Linked DNA regions of Homo sapiens. The protein of the gene in region 2 purifies or fractionates together with the protein of the main gene of each other region. This does not show direct contact. Each region holds a gene or a part of one and is shown on either strand. Other genes may lie near its edges.

Region 1 (4,098 bases), on a different chromosome or scaffold from region 2:
GCTTAAGAAGTAAAGGGGCAGGTGGAACAGAAATGAGTGGGCAGAAGAGGTACAAATAAGCAGCACTGGGAATGGGGAGGTAATAGGGCTTTGGGTAAAAGTTTCTCCTTGGTCCCCCTACCCTCCTTCCAGGCCTTCCTCTAAGCTGGAACTAGGATAAGAATTAACGAGCCCAGCCAGGCGCGGTGGCTCATGCCTGTAATCCCCGCACTTTGGGAAGCCAAGGCAGGCGGATCACCTGAGGTTGGGAGTTTGAGACCAGCCTGGCCAACATGGAGAAGCCCCATCTCTACTAAAAGTATAAAATTAGCCGGTCGTGGTGGCGCATGCCTGTAATCCCAGCTACTCGGGAGGCTGAGACAGGAGAATTGCTTGAACCCGGGTGGCGGAGGTTGTGGTGAGTGAAGATTGCACTATTGCACTCCAGCCTGGGCAACAAGAGTGAAACTCCATCTCAAAAAAAAAAAAAGAATTACGAGCCCAATACTCTGTGGAGTACAACACATTTTAGCTAATAGAACATTTGTTAGAACTGAAAGCAAAAGATATGCATCTTGGGAAATCTGTCCATCTCAACCCTTCAAAAATAGACATCGGCAGTGACCAATGATGGCTTTTAAAGTTATGGGGCAGACTTGGCTTTAACAGTTGCTTTTTGTTTTGTTTTGAATCACTTGACTGTGATTATTTTTACTGTCTCTTCCCTGATGGAGGCTGAAAGGAAGGGGTGGGGGGTGGCTGTACAGCTGACACAGCGTAGAGTTGTAGAAAAGGGCAGGAAAGAAGTCCAGTGTTCTGGGAAAGGTGGTGGCACAGGCAGCAGACCCATGTGGCCCAAGCAGGTCTCTTCCCTAACAAGTTACTGGCTGCTGGAGGTCATGCCAGGTGGCCTCATCAGGTTGTCTTTAGTCCCTGTTGGTGATATGAGGAGGAAAAAGGTGGCCCTGTAGATGGAGGCCCCAGCCACTCCTATCTGTCTAAACAAACTTGGTCTGGATCTTCTCAAGCATCAAACAAAGTATATAGCTCCTTATAGCTCTTAGGGACTGGGTATTTTGATGGCCTGAGAGAGAGTCCTAGTCAGATTACCTGGGACAGATGGTGGAAATCCCCGTTTTCCATAGGCCAAGTGAGAAGGAATGATTGCCCTTCGCTTCTCTCTGAGGGAAGGAATGTCAGTCACAGCCAGAGGCAGGAGAGGTAGGCCAGCAGCCTCAGTCCAGCTGAAGCTCCTTCAGCAAAACCCCCTGAATCTTCACACCCAAAACACGAATTTTTCCACCTGAACACCAAACAGGCTGGCCAGCAAAGGTGTCCATCTCCCCATGTGCCTCAACTCCCCCGACAAAAGCAACAGCGCAAGAGGCACAGAGGCTTTGAATGCCCTCAGAGGTCCCACTGACCTGGACCTGTCCAGTGGGAAGCAGGGTCCTTTATTCCACATTCTCCTGCTTAAGGAGTGAGGATGGCCGAGAAAGCCTCTACCCATGCAAAGGGGGTACCCAGGCCCACCCCTGCCGAGATACTCACCCCACACACATGTCGAGAAGACTCTGCTCCAGACCTTGAAGAAGAAGACACAACTGAACTGGAAGCTATCCACCTTCCCCAAATCCCATGACATGAAGATCAAAGTCTTCCTCCTCCATCCTCAATTGACCTTTCCCTCACTTCTTAAATCTCTGGCTTCCAATAGGATATGGGACAAGTGGAGTACTAGAAGTGAGGTTTGAACCTCAGGAGGTAACTCGTAGAGCCCTAGGGTCTTACTCATTTCAGGGGGGATTTCCAGGGCAGCTTTGGAGCCGAAGAGGCTAAGAAAGGGCTTAGGTTGGGAAGAGGTGGAATGGGAGGCACAGGTCACATACCTGGAATCACCTGCTTTTGGCCAAGTTCTATAACCAGAGGGTCTCTGGTCAGGGAGGTGTCAATAATACGTCCATCTACCAAGCTTCCCTGGGGGGAGAGAGCATCAAGAGCATACATCTAGCACCCTCTCCCTCCCAGCAGGCGCGCAACACACACCTGGACCGCTGGGCGGCGGCAGCCCCCTTAGTGCGGCAGCCTAGCGTTCCCCTTACCGCTGTAAGGAACAGGAAGCCCCAGAAGGCTGGCGCTTCTCGGAGATCTCTCCACCCTGCACTTCTCCGTGCCAGGTAGGAACTGGCAGAAAAGCAAGGAGGGAAAAGAGGCACGGAAGAGCAACGTCTCTCCCCTCGCCACGTGCTCGACGACCCCAGAGCCCCGAGTTTCTTCTCCCGAACCGCTTGCCACGTGTCCAAGCCAAAGCTGACGTGTTTCAGCAGGGCGCCGCCCCCTCCCAGGCCCCGCCCCGGCCCCCCAGACCCCTCACCGTGTAGTGTATGTGAAGCGTGTCTCCAAAAGCAGCGGGCTCGGCACATGGTTCTGGGGGCTCCACCTACGATCGGACTACAGGGGTCACGGATGCTCTTCCAAAGATCCCGTTCTCGCCCCTAGACCCGGCACCACCCCCAACTCAGTTCCCGCACTTCCTCTCCTCCCGGCTCCCAGGTTCGCTGAGACCCCAGTATTACCACCCAACAAGGCTCGGCCCACGGGGGCTGAGGGTCGGGACTATCTCCTCACCAGGGTCTCCACTTGGAGGGTCCGGACGGGACTTTCGGTTTCGAGCCCAGCCTCAGCCCGGCACACCGCCGCACTGAGCAGCAGCAGCAGCAGCAGATGGAGCGGGAGGAGTGAGGGGCGCAGGGTCATGACTGGGCGCGGGGCAGGGAGCCGGGGCACCAGGACAGGCTGTTCGGGTGGCGGCAGCCAGGACAGCGTTCCCGCGGCGCCCAGGCCAGACTGGACGGGACGGGGCGGGTCGCGATGCTAGAGCTCCTCCTCCTGCAGCCCTTCCTCCACCTTGTCCCCACCTCCGAAAGGGAGGAGGCCGAGGGGCGCCCTCTGTACCCTCCAAGATCCGGAGGGCGCAGGTTCTGACGCATCCGTTAGACGTTCTGTCCTATAACGTGGGTCGGGCCAAACAATAGCACCCATTTACGATTACCTACTGTGTGTCAGGAGCTAGTCTCTAATCCTCAAAACCACCCTGAAAGGTCGGCATGATTGTTTCCATTTTACAGATAAGGCACAGGGTGCTCAGGATGTGCCCAAGGTCATCAGGCTAGGTGGTGACAGAGACAGGATTCAAACCCAGGACTGCCTGAGTCCAACGTGGTTGCTGTCTGTTCTTCCAAGTCGTCTCCTTGTGGCTATCCTGGCAGTGTCTGGCTGGCAGACCCCACCCAGGCAGTTCTCATTCCTCTCCGACCTCCAGCTACTTCAGCTTGAATTTCTGGAGGTTATAGATCCAAGTATCCGAAATAAGGCAGGGGGCTGTCCTATCCCTGTCCTTTGAAAAGCTAGCTGAAAAGAGCAAGGAGCTGTTATCCTGTAAGAACAGGGTAAATCCCTGATCTTTTCCTCTGGTGCTACTATTTCCTTTCTCCTTTCATCAACAAACTTCTCAAAGGGCAGCACACGTAATCCATTTATGTAAAGACTTCACTTTTTTTTTTTTTTTTTTTTTTGAGATGGAGTCTCGCTCTGTGGCCCAGGCTGGAGTGCAGTGGTGCCATCTCCACTCACTGCAACCTCCGCCTCCCAGGTTCAAGCGATTCTCCTGCCTCAGCCTCCCAAGTAGCTGGGATTACACCCGCCACCACGCCCGGCTAATTTTTGTATTTTTAGTAGATAAGGGGTTTCACCATGTTGGCCAGGCTGGTCTCAAACTCCTGATGTCAGGTGATCCGCCTGCCTCGGTCTCTCAAAGTGCTAGGATTACAGGCGTGAGCCACCAGATTTCTTTTTTTTTTTTTTTTTTTGAGGGGGAGGAGTTTTGCTCCTGTTGCCCAGGCTGGAGTGCAATGGCGCGATCTTGGCTCACCGCAACCTCTGCTCCCGAGTAGCTGGGACTACAGGCATGCGCCACCATGCCCAGCTGATTTTGAATTTTTAGTAAAGACAGGGTTTCTCCATGTCTGTCAGGCTGGTCTCGAATTCCCAACCTCAAGTGATCCACCCACCTCGGCCTTCCAAAGTGCTGGGATTACAGGTATGAGCCACCACGCCCAG
Region 2 (3,500 bases):
TTGCAATGAGCGGAGATCGCGCCACTGCACTCCAGCCTGGGCGACAGAGCGAGACTCCTTCTCAAAAACAAACAAATAAATAAATAAATAAAGATATATTTGTGTGGGCCAGGCGCGGTGGCTCACAGTTGTAATCCCAGCACTTTGGGAGGCCGAGGTGGCCCCGTCTCTACTAAAAATACAAAATTAGCCAGGTGTGGTGGCGCATGCCTGTAATCCCAGCTACTCGGGAAACTGAGGTGGGAGAATCGATTGAACCTGGAAGGTGGAGGTTGCGGTGAGCCAAGATCATCCTGTCGCACTCCAGCCTGGGCAACAAGAGCGAAACTCCATCTCAAAAAGAAAAAAAAAGATATATTTGTGTGACTTACAGGTACAGGTAAAGTTGCTTCTGGTTTTCTGGTTGTTGCATGGTATTTCCTATGCAGCCACAGCTCTTTATTTTCTTACTTAAGTGCCTCCAACTTCCCATAACACAAATTAAGGCATGATGAACATCCTCTCTGTGCTGAACATCCTGTGTATGTCACTTTAGAAGCCTGTGTGACGGTTTCTTTAGTCTTTATACCTAGGGGTGGGATTTCTGGGTCATAGGACAGTAATTTATATTTATTTTCACTAAGTATTCTCTTTCTCTGGCTTTTGTTACATATTACCTGTTTGTCCTCCAGAAAACTTGCACCAATTTACATTCCTACCAATAGGGTAGGAGAGTGCACACTGGGTGGATTCTAACTCCAAATCTAACACCTCTTCTTTTCTTTGTTTCTAGCAGCCATGGCAATGACAGGCTCAACACCTTGCTCATCCATGAGTAACCACACAAAGGAAAGGGTGACAATGACCAAAGTGACACTGGAGAATTTTTATAGCAACCTTATCGCTCAACATGAAGAACGAGAAATGAGGTAAAGAATTTTGTTTGAAAAAATTGTGTCATGGTTGTGGCATTCCTTTCTCGTATTGTAAAACACTTATAATGCTGAAAGGAGACAAGAATAGTAGCAGCCTTATTATAGACTATCATAATGGAATGACAGTGAAAGGGCTTTTCAAAGTCCCTGCCATTAACCCACTTATGCCTACAAGTCAATAACACAAACTTCTATTGAAATCCAAGAAAAAAAATGATACTTGGGAGGTTGAGTTGGGAGGATTGCTTTAGCCCAGGAATTTGAGGCCAGCCTGAGCAACACTGAGACTCTGTATCTTAAAAAAAAAAAAAAAAAAAAAATTAGGCCCAATCCAAGGAGTTGATTGTTAAGGCAGAGTGGTATAATGGAATAGCAGCCCTTTTGGAGTCAGACTTGGGTTTAGAGTCCTGCCAGTTTCATTGAATAGCTGTATGAAGCTCTAATAAGTTCCTTAGTCTTTCTGTGAATTGGTTCCCTCATCAGGAAAATGGGGATAATACTACTTGCCTTGCAGGATTGTGTTGGGGATTAGATATAACATATGTGAGTATGTACCATAGTGTTTCACACATAGTAGTCACTTAGTTAATGGTGGTAGTATCAGCTATTGTTATTACTGATCTGGTGTATACTGTCCACTTAGTAACTCATAATTTATTTATTGGTTTTTTTTTTTTTTTGAGATCGAATCTCACTCTGTTGCCCAGGCTGGAGTGCAATGGCATGATCTCAGCTCACTGCAGCCTCTGCCTCCTGGGTTCAAGCGGTTCTCGTGCCTCAGCCTCCTCAGTAGCTGGGACTACAGGTGTGAGCCACCACGCCTGGCTAATTTTTGTATTTTTAGCAGAGACGGGGTTTCACCATGTTGGCCAGGCTGGTCTTGAACTCCTGACCTCAGGCATTCCACCTGCCTCGGCCTCCCATAGTGCTGGGATTACAGGCATGAGCCACTGCTTGGCTGTAACTCATAATTAAAAAAAAATTTTTCCCAATATTTTACTATGAAAGTATTCAGAAGTACAGAAAACTTGTAATAAACAGTGAATATATACATATATATCATCTAGAGTCTATAATGGTTATTTATTATATTTGTTTAACTGCATATCCATCTATCCATTCTTGTATCTGTCATTAATCCATCTTAATTTCCTTTTTTTTTTTTTTTTTTTTTGAGACAGAGTCTTGTTCTGTCACCCAGGCTGGAGTGTAGTGGCGTGGTCTTGGCTCACTGCATCATCTGCCTCCTGGGTTCAAGTGATTCTCCTGCCTCAGCCTCCCGAGTAGCTGGGATTACAGGCATGCGCCACCACGCCCAGCTAATTTTTGTATTTTTAGTAGAGACAGGGTTTCACTGTGTTGGCCAGGATGGTCTTGATCTCTTGACCTCTTGGCCTCCCAAAGTGCTGGGGTTATAGGCGTGAGCCACTGTGCCCGGCCAATCCATCTTAATTTTTTGCCTCACTTCAAGGTATGTTGTAGACATCAGTATACTTCTGAATATTTCTGCTTATATAACATTAACTAGAATTCAGTATTTATACTTTTTGGGGAAGGGTGTAAAATTTATATACAATGGAATGCACAAGTTCAAGGGTACCATTTTATGAGTTTTGACAATTGCATACACTTGTATAACTTAAACCTTTATCAAAACAGAACATTACGTCTCCCAGAAAAAGTTTTCATGCCTCTTGGTTCTTCAACCTTAGACAAAGACAACCACTGTTGTGATTTTTTTTTTTTCTTTTTTTCTTTTTTTGAGACGGAGTCTCACTCTGTTGCCCAGGCTGGAGTGCAGTGGCGTGATCTCGGCTCACTGTAAGCTCCGCCTCCCAGGTTCACGCCATTCTCCCACCTTAGCCTCCCGAGTAGCTGGGACTACAGGCGCTTGCCACCAAGCCCGGCTAATTTTGTTTTTGTATTTTTAGTAGAGACGGGGTTTCACTGTATTAGCCAGGATGGTCTCAGTCTCCTGACCTCGTGATCCACCTGCCACAGCCTCTTGAAGTGCTGGGATTACAGGCGTGAGCCACCGTGCCTGGTTGTGATTTTGTTTCTATCATAGTTTTGCCTATTTCATACAAGTGGAACACATAAATGGAAACATGTAGTATGTACTCATTTGAGCAAGGCATCTTTCATTTAGCATATTTTTTTTTTTGTCGAGACGGGGTGTTGTTTTGTTGCCCAGGCTGGTGTGCAGTGGCACTATCATAGCTTACTGCATCCTTGACCTCCCAGGCTCAAGCGATCCTCCTGCCTCAGCCTCCCAAGTAGCTGGGACTACAGGTGCATGCCACCATGCTTGGCTAATTTTTAAAATTTTCTGTAGAGACAGGGTCTCACTTTGTTGTCCAGGCTGGTCTCGAACTCCGGGGTTCAAGTGATCCTCCCACCTTAGCCTCCCAAAGTGCTAGGATTACAGGTGTGAGCCACCACACCTGGCCAGCATATTTTTGAGGTTCCTCTGTGTTGCTATATGCATCAATAATTTGTTCCTTTTTATTGTTGGTACTATTCTGTCTTCTGACTATATCTTTGTTTGTCCATTCTCCTATTGATAAACACCTGGGTTCTTTTCAG
Region 3 (3,500 bases), on a different chromosome or scaffold from region 2:
AGATTTCCTTAAAATTGCTGGTGGTAAGTGCCTTTTACATAATGTGGCTTTAGTTAATAAGAATCTAAAAATTTTGCATACTTAAATTTAGCAAGAGTAGGTGAATAGGGTCATGAATGGTTTTTATTTTCTAATGGAACATGGGAATAGATTTTCTTCCCCAGAGGTAGAAGCTTCCGATAATAACAGTGAGCTTAATGTATAACACTTGTCCTAAGGCTTGAGCCAACTTACTATAGTTAAATAGCCATTAAAAATAGTACTATACAAAGGTGAAAAGGTGATATGAAGTTGTATGCATATGGAAAGGCTAGGTTTTTTTGTTTTGTTTTTTTGGAGACAGAGTTTCGCTCTGTCACCCAAACTGGAGTGCGGTGGCACAATCTCAGCTCGTTGCGACCTCTGCCTCCCAGGCTCAAGCAATTCTTGTGCCTCCGCCTCCGTAGTGGCTGGGTTTACAGGTGTGTGCCACCATGCCTGGCTAACTTTTTGTATTTTTAATAGAGATGGGGTTTCACCATGTTGGCCAAGCTGGTCTGGAACCCCTGGCTTCAAATTGATCCTCCTGCCTCAGCCTCCCAAAGTGCTGGGATTACAGGCCTGAGCCCCTGTGCCCGGCCAGGAAATGATATTCTTGAAAAGAGTCAGAAAACTGCTTTCAAACGGCCACGCTGCAATACCTGGGATTGTTGCACATGTGCTTCTAATTTTTCTCTAAACTTAACACATGAGTCACCAGAAACATGGTAGTTTTGGGTCTCGTAGTATTTTTGGATGTGTATTTACAGTAATATGGTTAAAAACAGGGTGGAACAGATGTGGTTTTTATCCAGTTATTTAGTGATTAATAACTTTAAAGGAAGTAACATGCATAAAACGTTGACTGCTTTTTGTCTGATTTTTTTCTATATATATATCTACTTTGTAAGTTTCTGTTGCTCATTCATATTGTTTTATAATTTCCTTTTAATGTATATTAACATCATCCTACATTACTCAATTTTCTTAAATGTTAATTGCTACATAGTATTATATGTACCATAATATTTTGAAACATCTCTGTTGGAGCTGGGCACATGGCTTGTGCCTGTAATTCCAGCTACTTGGGAGGCTGAGACAGGGAGGATTGCTTGAGCCTTGGTGTATTTTGAGAATGGCCTGAGCAACATAGTGAGATTCTGTCTGTAATAAATAAAATATCCCTGTTGAGCATTTAGAACTCATTTCCAACTTTTGACTTTAATATGTTGTCAATATTTTAAAATCTCTGTATGCGCCACTCATTGGGATAAATCTCTAAAAGCAGGATAGCTGAATCAAAGAATTTTGGACCTTTTCAACAGCCATTTGACACCTATTGCCAAATTATATGAAGATGACTTTCACTGTGTAAAAGAACATTTGTATTCCTACATTACAGAGCCTGGGTGAAAATTTTGCAGCTATAGAACTTACCGGAACAGCATCCTATTAACACAATCTGCTGGTATATTTTTGCTCCAGTTCATCTTTAGATAAACTCTAAGGCTTCAAAATTCAGGACTTCAAATTTAGGAGCATTTCCAGAGTTCCCAAGCAATGTTTGATATTGTTAGGGGTCAAATATATTTGGGGTTGCTGTGGTTTTACCTAAATCCTGACATTTCATGATAGATGCATTGCAACTTGGAGATGGCAAAGTCAATTGTTTATATCATTTCTGGGATTTCATTGTATATGGGCACTGCGATAAGAATTTGCTATTAGGGGCTGGGCTTGGTGGCTCATGCCTTTAATGCCAGCACTTTGGAAGGCCAAGGCAGGCGGATCACTTGTGGTCAAGAGTTCGAGGCCAGCCTGGCCAATATGGTGAAACCCCATCTCTACTAATAATACACAAATTAGCCAGGAGAGGGGTGTGTGTGTGTGTGTGTGTGTGTGTAATCCCAGCTACTCTGGGAGGCCGAGGCAGGAGAATCAACTTGAATCTCTGCGGCGGTGTTTGCAGTGAGCCGAGACCGTGCCACTGCACTCCAGCCTAGGAGACAGAGTGAAACTGTGTCTCAAAAAAAAAACAAAAAAGAAGCAAAAAGAAGAACGTGCTATTAGGGAAAATGTTACTAGTGTATGAGTTTCAAAGATATGCATTTAAGTATTTGCTATATGACAACACTGTACAAAATGTTTTATGTTGGGCAGAATGTTGATCAATATTGAAAGTAGGTACCCCATATATTCATTATACTATTCTTTTTACTAAGAATGTTTGAACCTTTCTTAATTAAAAAAAAAAAAGGTAATTGAGTTACTTGCAGATGGTTTTCTTGGGAGCAAAAGAGTAATCAGGAAAAGATTTTTTTAACCCAAAGTGCTTTATATCTATTACCCTACTTAATTTTCATAATTTATGACATAGGCAATCTTACAGACAAGAAAAGTAAGGCACGGAGTTGAACTTGACTAAGATTATGCCCTAGTAAGCAGTAAAGCCAAGATTGGACCCAGGCATTCTGGCTCCAGGACCTGTGCCTTTAACTACCACAATGACTTACTAGTGATTGGCCCGTGATTTAATTGTCTTGCCAGCTTCCTAAATTAAGAAGGATGTTTTATGAAAAAGGGGAGGAGTTTCAAATTTAGAAAATTCTGATTTCTAGGATGTTATTTTGCGTTCAGTAGGAGTATGGGTCTTCATTATGAACTCAAGACATTGGCAGGACTTTTATCACTTTAAAATCGGTAAAGTTGATGTCTTAACTATTTCTCTCCCTGCTTCCTAATATTTGTTTTCCCTAGGTACTTCCAATGAGGTAGCCCAGTTTCTCTCCAAGGAAAATCAAGTCATTGTCCGCATGCGGGGGCTCCCTTTCACGGCCACAGCTGAAGAAGTGGTGGCCTTCTTTGGACAGCATTGCCCTATTACTGGGGGAAAGGAAGGCATCCTCTTTGTCACCTACCCAGATGGTAGGCCAACAGGGGACGCTTTTGTCCTCTTTGCCTGTGAGGAATATGCACAGAATGCGTTGAGGAAGCATAAAGACTTGTTGGGTAAAAGATACATTGAACTCTTCAGGAGCACAGCAGCTGAAGTTCAGCAGGTTGGTTTTAAAAACAAGTATGTTGTACCTTTGCATTAATTTCTGTTCTTTATCTCTGAAAATAGTCCTACATTGCTCATTATGTTAAAATAAAACTGGCAAAATACTAAAAGTGTAACTGCATGAAAATAGTCTTGATTCTATAACCAAGAGATAGCCGCTGTTATCCTGTACACACACACAACACATACTACGTATTTTTACAGAAATGGGATACTGCTATAGCTGGATTTTTGTATTCTGTTTTAAAACTATGAAAGCTTACCTATGTCTGAAAAGTTTCATCTTTAAATATCTCATGGAAGTGCATACTTTATCTAGAAATTCCTCTAGTGTACACTTAGATTGATTTTTTTCTACCAGAAGAAATTTCTATGTAAAATGCTTAAAAACCTGTCATCAATTTGATTTCTGTAGCATTGG
Region 4 (3,500 bases), on a different chromosome or scaffold from region 2:
GCTGCTCATGGTCTAGAGGATGATTCTAGGTGATACACAGGTCAACATTTTTTGTTTCAGTAGCCAGCTATTTCACAGGTATTATTGCTTACAATTGGAAAAAATTTTTTTGAGTTAACATTAAAGATGTTAGTTGAATATGGCAAAAAATGTGAAAATGATATGTAATGGATTGAAGTTTGGGAAACATTAGAAGACAGAGAAGAAAGAGAGAAGAAAAAGAGGAAAGGATCAGACAAATAAAGATAATGATAACTTCATTAAGATAAAATGAAATCATAAAGGCAAAAAATCCATATACTGGAAACATAAAAATTACCTTAGCCGTTGTTGCGCAGGTTGCAGCTCTGACCTGAGACATTTTGGGAGGCACTTTTCAGGGGCACTCCGCATTCTGAAAATGTAGAGAATTTTCCAAATAAGAAAATTTGCCTTAACGAGAATTCAGGGAAAGCCACTGACAAGCTACAGACTTCCAGCTAAGTCATGTTAGTTAGGATGATGCTTGGGAGCATCAGTGATGCACTTTCAACATCAATTAGAAATCTGGGAGGCAAATGGAATGCTCGATAGTATTCATATCTTGTTTAGTTTGGCAAAAGAATGAAAGTTTCAATATTTTGTTGAAAAATCGTTTCATAATTTGGAAAGTGCCTAGCACAATGCCTGGCTCAAAGTGAGTTCTCAATGGCTGATCACTACCACTATTGTAATTTATGTCATTAATCTTCCTGGTTCTTCCCAGCGTGGGATCAGAAGGGGGAGAGAATACTTGGGCACATGGAAATAGAAGGATGTATGAGAACCAGGCTGGTCATGTAGCTTGATGCCTTTTCTTCCTGTCCTGGGCAAGGAATGGCTACAAGAGGTTACTATCAAGAGTTCCAAAGTAAGGAGAGATGGACTCCTGCCATCTGTAAAGAACTGGATATTTTGAATGTTTAATAAAACTCTTTTTAAGATAAACTTTTATATTGACTGCAAAAAATAAAAAGGAAGCTGCATAAGGCTTGATAGGGCATAATTTTTTTCACTATTCTATGGGTAAAGCCATAATAAAATAAACAACTTGATTATATTGACAAAAAGTGTTTATAAAGATATATTTAATGCCATGAAAAAATTTCAGTAGATAACATTAAGAAAAAAACATAAGAGAGAGCAGCTTTAACATTATATATAGTTTGTGCTTAATTGTATATGCACATACATTATAAACTACTAAGCAAAAAAAAAAAACAGTTAAGCCTATATGATCTTAAGAGGGAAGCATTTTGTCATTCAAGCAGCTGGTAATGGAAAATAAATTAATGTTAATGTTGAAAAAAGAAGCTTGTAGTACTTATATAATTAAACTTTATTTTACTTCATTTTTCAGACATTAGTAAATTTACTTGGTGCCCGAGATACTAATGTTCTATTGGGTTCCCTTCTGGCTCTGGCTAGTTTAGCAGAAAGGTAAGTAGTGTATTCTAATATACTTTCCAGTTCTGCTACTATAGCAATTTAGGTGGTAAGGATGCAAAATAATCAGTTACTTTGTCAACTACTTAATACAATTTCTTGATAAATAAGTGTGAAATAACATGTTGAAGAGAATCCTGGATAGAAGGCATTATTTAAAAATTTAAACTGGAAAGGCAAATTGCAGTTTAAAATTTTCTTTTTATTTCCTGACTGGAAATATTTAGTCTTTTCATCTAACCCTCAGTTACTTCTAATTTCAAAATTACCATAATATTTCTTTGGCAGTTGAATCTTTCTGACCATCTTAATTCATTCTTACCTGTGAATTTTAACATACAGAACGTTTTCAAACATCTGTGGGCTTTGAAAAATTTTCAAGAAGATCTTTCCTCTTATAAATGTCATGATTATTTTAAATGTTTTTATGACAATAAGTGGACCATTGCTTTTCTGTGAATAACATATGATTCCTTTTGTTTTTTGATCTCTTCTCCCAAGATAATATTGGAGCTAGGATATTAAATAAATAAATTTATATGGTTAGGCTTTGTGTCCCCAACCAAATCTCATCTTGAATTGTAATCCCTGTAATCCCCATAATTCCCTCATGTCAAGGGAGAGACCAGGTGGAGGTCATTGAATCATGGGGCCATTTCCTCCATGCTGTTCTCATGATAGTGAGTGAGTTCTCATGAGATCTGATGGTTTTATAAGGGGCTCTTCCCCCTTGGCTCGGCACTTATCCTTCCTGCTGCCTTGTGAAGAAGGTGCCTTGCTTCTCCTTTATCTTCCACCATGACTGTAAGTTTCCTGAGGCCTCCCTAGCCATGCTGAACTGTGAGTCAAGTAAACCTCTTTCCTTTATAAATCACCCAGTCTCAGGCAGTTCTTTATACCAGTTTGAAAAAGGACTAATACATGGATCTAGCAAAATATGCTTTTAGTAATTGCTAATATTTTTCAATTTATAGTCAAGAATGTAGGGAGAAGATAAGTGAACTCAACATTGTAGAAAATCTGTTGATGATTTTACATGAATATGACTTGCTTTCTAAAAGGTAGGATTGCTAACAGTAGAAAAAGACAATGCAGTGCCTTTATTTGACAGATACACTTGTTATTATTTTTATTACGTCATGTTATTTACATTGTAACTGAATATGATGAGTCAGCTTGGCATTTATTTTCTGTTTAAGTTTATATAAAGAAAATAGAGCAAAGAAGTATATCCATTTATGTTTAGTCCTGCATTACTTCTAGATCTGGGCATAGAAGCTGATGAAATAAATTTTTGTGATATCATTTTTAATGTTTTGTTTATTGCATTTATTTATATCCTGCCTTTTTAGGGAAAGAAACTCTGAGGTGGCTCTAGTTTTAGTAATTTCAAATTGTATATTACAATAAGTGATTAGGTTGCTAAAATCCATTTGCATGAAGGCAAGTAAAATAAGATAGCAACTGACTTGTTTTGTGATCACCTGCTATGATAACTCAAAATCTAGAGTAAAATGGATTCATTTTTACTTGAACTGCATATTGTTCTAATAACTATCCAGATAGTTATTAGATTGTACTTAAATAGAGTTGCAATCTATATCATTTGATATTTAGTTGAGTAATTTTCTAAAGAGGCAAAATAGATAAAAAGAAATCTCCAGCAATGGAGCCCTGACACTTAACTCATAGTAAATCCTTTTGGATTCTTCTTCAAAACTCTCATAAAAGAGCATTAAATATAGATAATACTTATAGACTTGGTTATCTGAACAAACAAGGTTCCAAGCTTGGTACCAGGTGTTGAAAACCAAAGATGAATAAGTTATAAATATGTAGTGTAGAAGAGGGTCAAACAGTGCTATAACTGATACGGTAGACAGATGCACAGGGTACTCTGGGAACATGGAGCAGAGACTTCCCAATTAGAATGTGGAGTCATGCAAAGTTTCCTGGAGGAAAGAGAAGATATCTAGGCAGAGAGAGAGAGACAACATAAAAACAGTATGTGCTTGGACATGGAGGCATGAAATTGG

What was found. The genes of interacting proteins can lie anywhere in the genome.
Region 1: the proteins of STK38 (region 2) and FKBP11 purify together in Homo sapiens (affinity purification with mass spectrometry, with the first as the bait; one large-scale study listed by BioGRID). This does not show direct contact.
Region 3: the proteins of STK38 (region 2) and ESRP1 fractionate together in Homo sapiens (co-fractionation; one large-scale study listed by BioGRID). This does not show direct contact.
Region 4: the proteins of STK38 (region 2) and NEK10 purify together in Homo sapiens (co-immunoprecipitation; one large-scale study listed by IntAct). This does not show direct contact.

Annotation. Positions count from the first base shown.
Region 1 is NC_000012.12:48,922,693-48,926,790, forward strand, and holds the start of FKBP11 (peptidyl-prolyl cis-trans isomerase FKBP11 isoform 1 precursor), read right to left. Parts: upstream 2,801-4,098; 5' UTR 2,737-2,800; coding exon 2,608-2,736; intron 2,431-2,607; coding exon of another isoform or gene 2,420-2,430; coding exon 2,354-2,419; coding exon of another isoform or gene 2,082-2,353; intron 1,957-2,081; coding exon 1,869-1,956; intron 1,565-1,868; coding exon 1,531-1,564; intron 1,161-1,530; coding exon 1,090-1,160; intron 913-1,089; coding exon of another isoform or gene 860-912; exon of another isoform or gene 434-859; intron 1-433. UniProt on the Homo sapiens protein: PPIases accelerate the folding of proteins during protein synthesis.
Region 2 is NC_000006.12:36,537,480-36,540,979, reverse strand, and holds part of STK38 (serine/threonine-protein kinase 38), read left to right. Parts: intron 1-190; exon of another isoform or gene 191-379; intron 380-772; 5' UTR 773-777; coding exon 778-908; intron 909-3,500. UniProt on the Homo sapiens protein: Serine/threonine-protein kinase that acts as a negative regulator of MAP3K1/2 signaling. Converts MAP3K2 from its phosphorylated form to its non-phosphorylated form and inhibits autophosphorylation of MAP3K2.
Region 3 is NC_000008.11:94,665,174-94,668,673, forward strand, and holds part of ESRP1 (epithelial splicing regulatory protein 1), read left to right. Parts: coding exon 1-23; intron 24-2,775; coding exon 2,776-3,077; intron 3,078-3,500. UniProt on the Homo sapiens protein: mRNA splicing factor that regulates the formation of epithelial cell-specific isoforms. Specifically regulates the expression of FGFR2-IIIb, an epithelial cell-specific isoform of FGFR2.
Region 4 is NC_000003.12:27,306,884-27,310,383, reverse strand, and holds part of NEK10 (serine/threonine-protein kinase Nek10), read left to right. Parts: intron 1-1,378; coding exon 1,379-1,458; intron 1,459-2,438; coding exon 2,439-2,525; intron 2,526-3,500. UniProt on the Homo sapiens protein: Plays a role in the cellular response to UV irradiation. Mediates G2/M cell cycle arrest, MEK autoactivation and ERK1/2-signaling pathway activation in response to UV irradiation.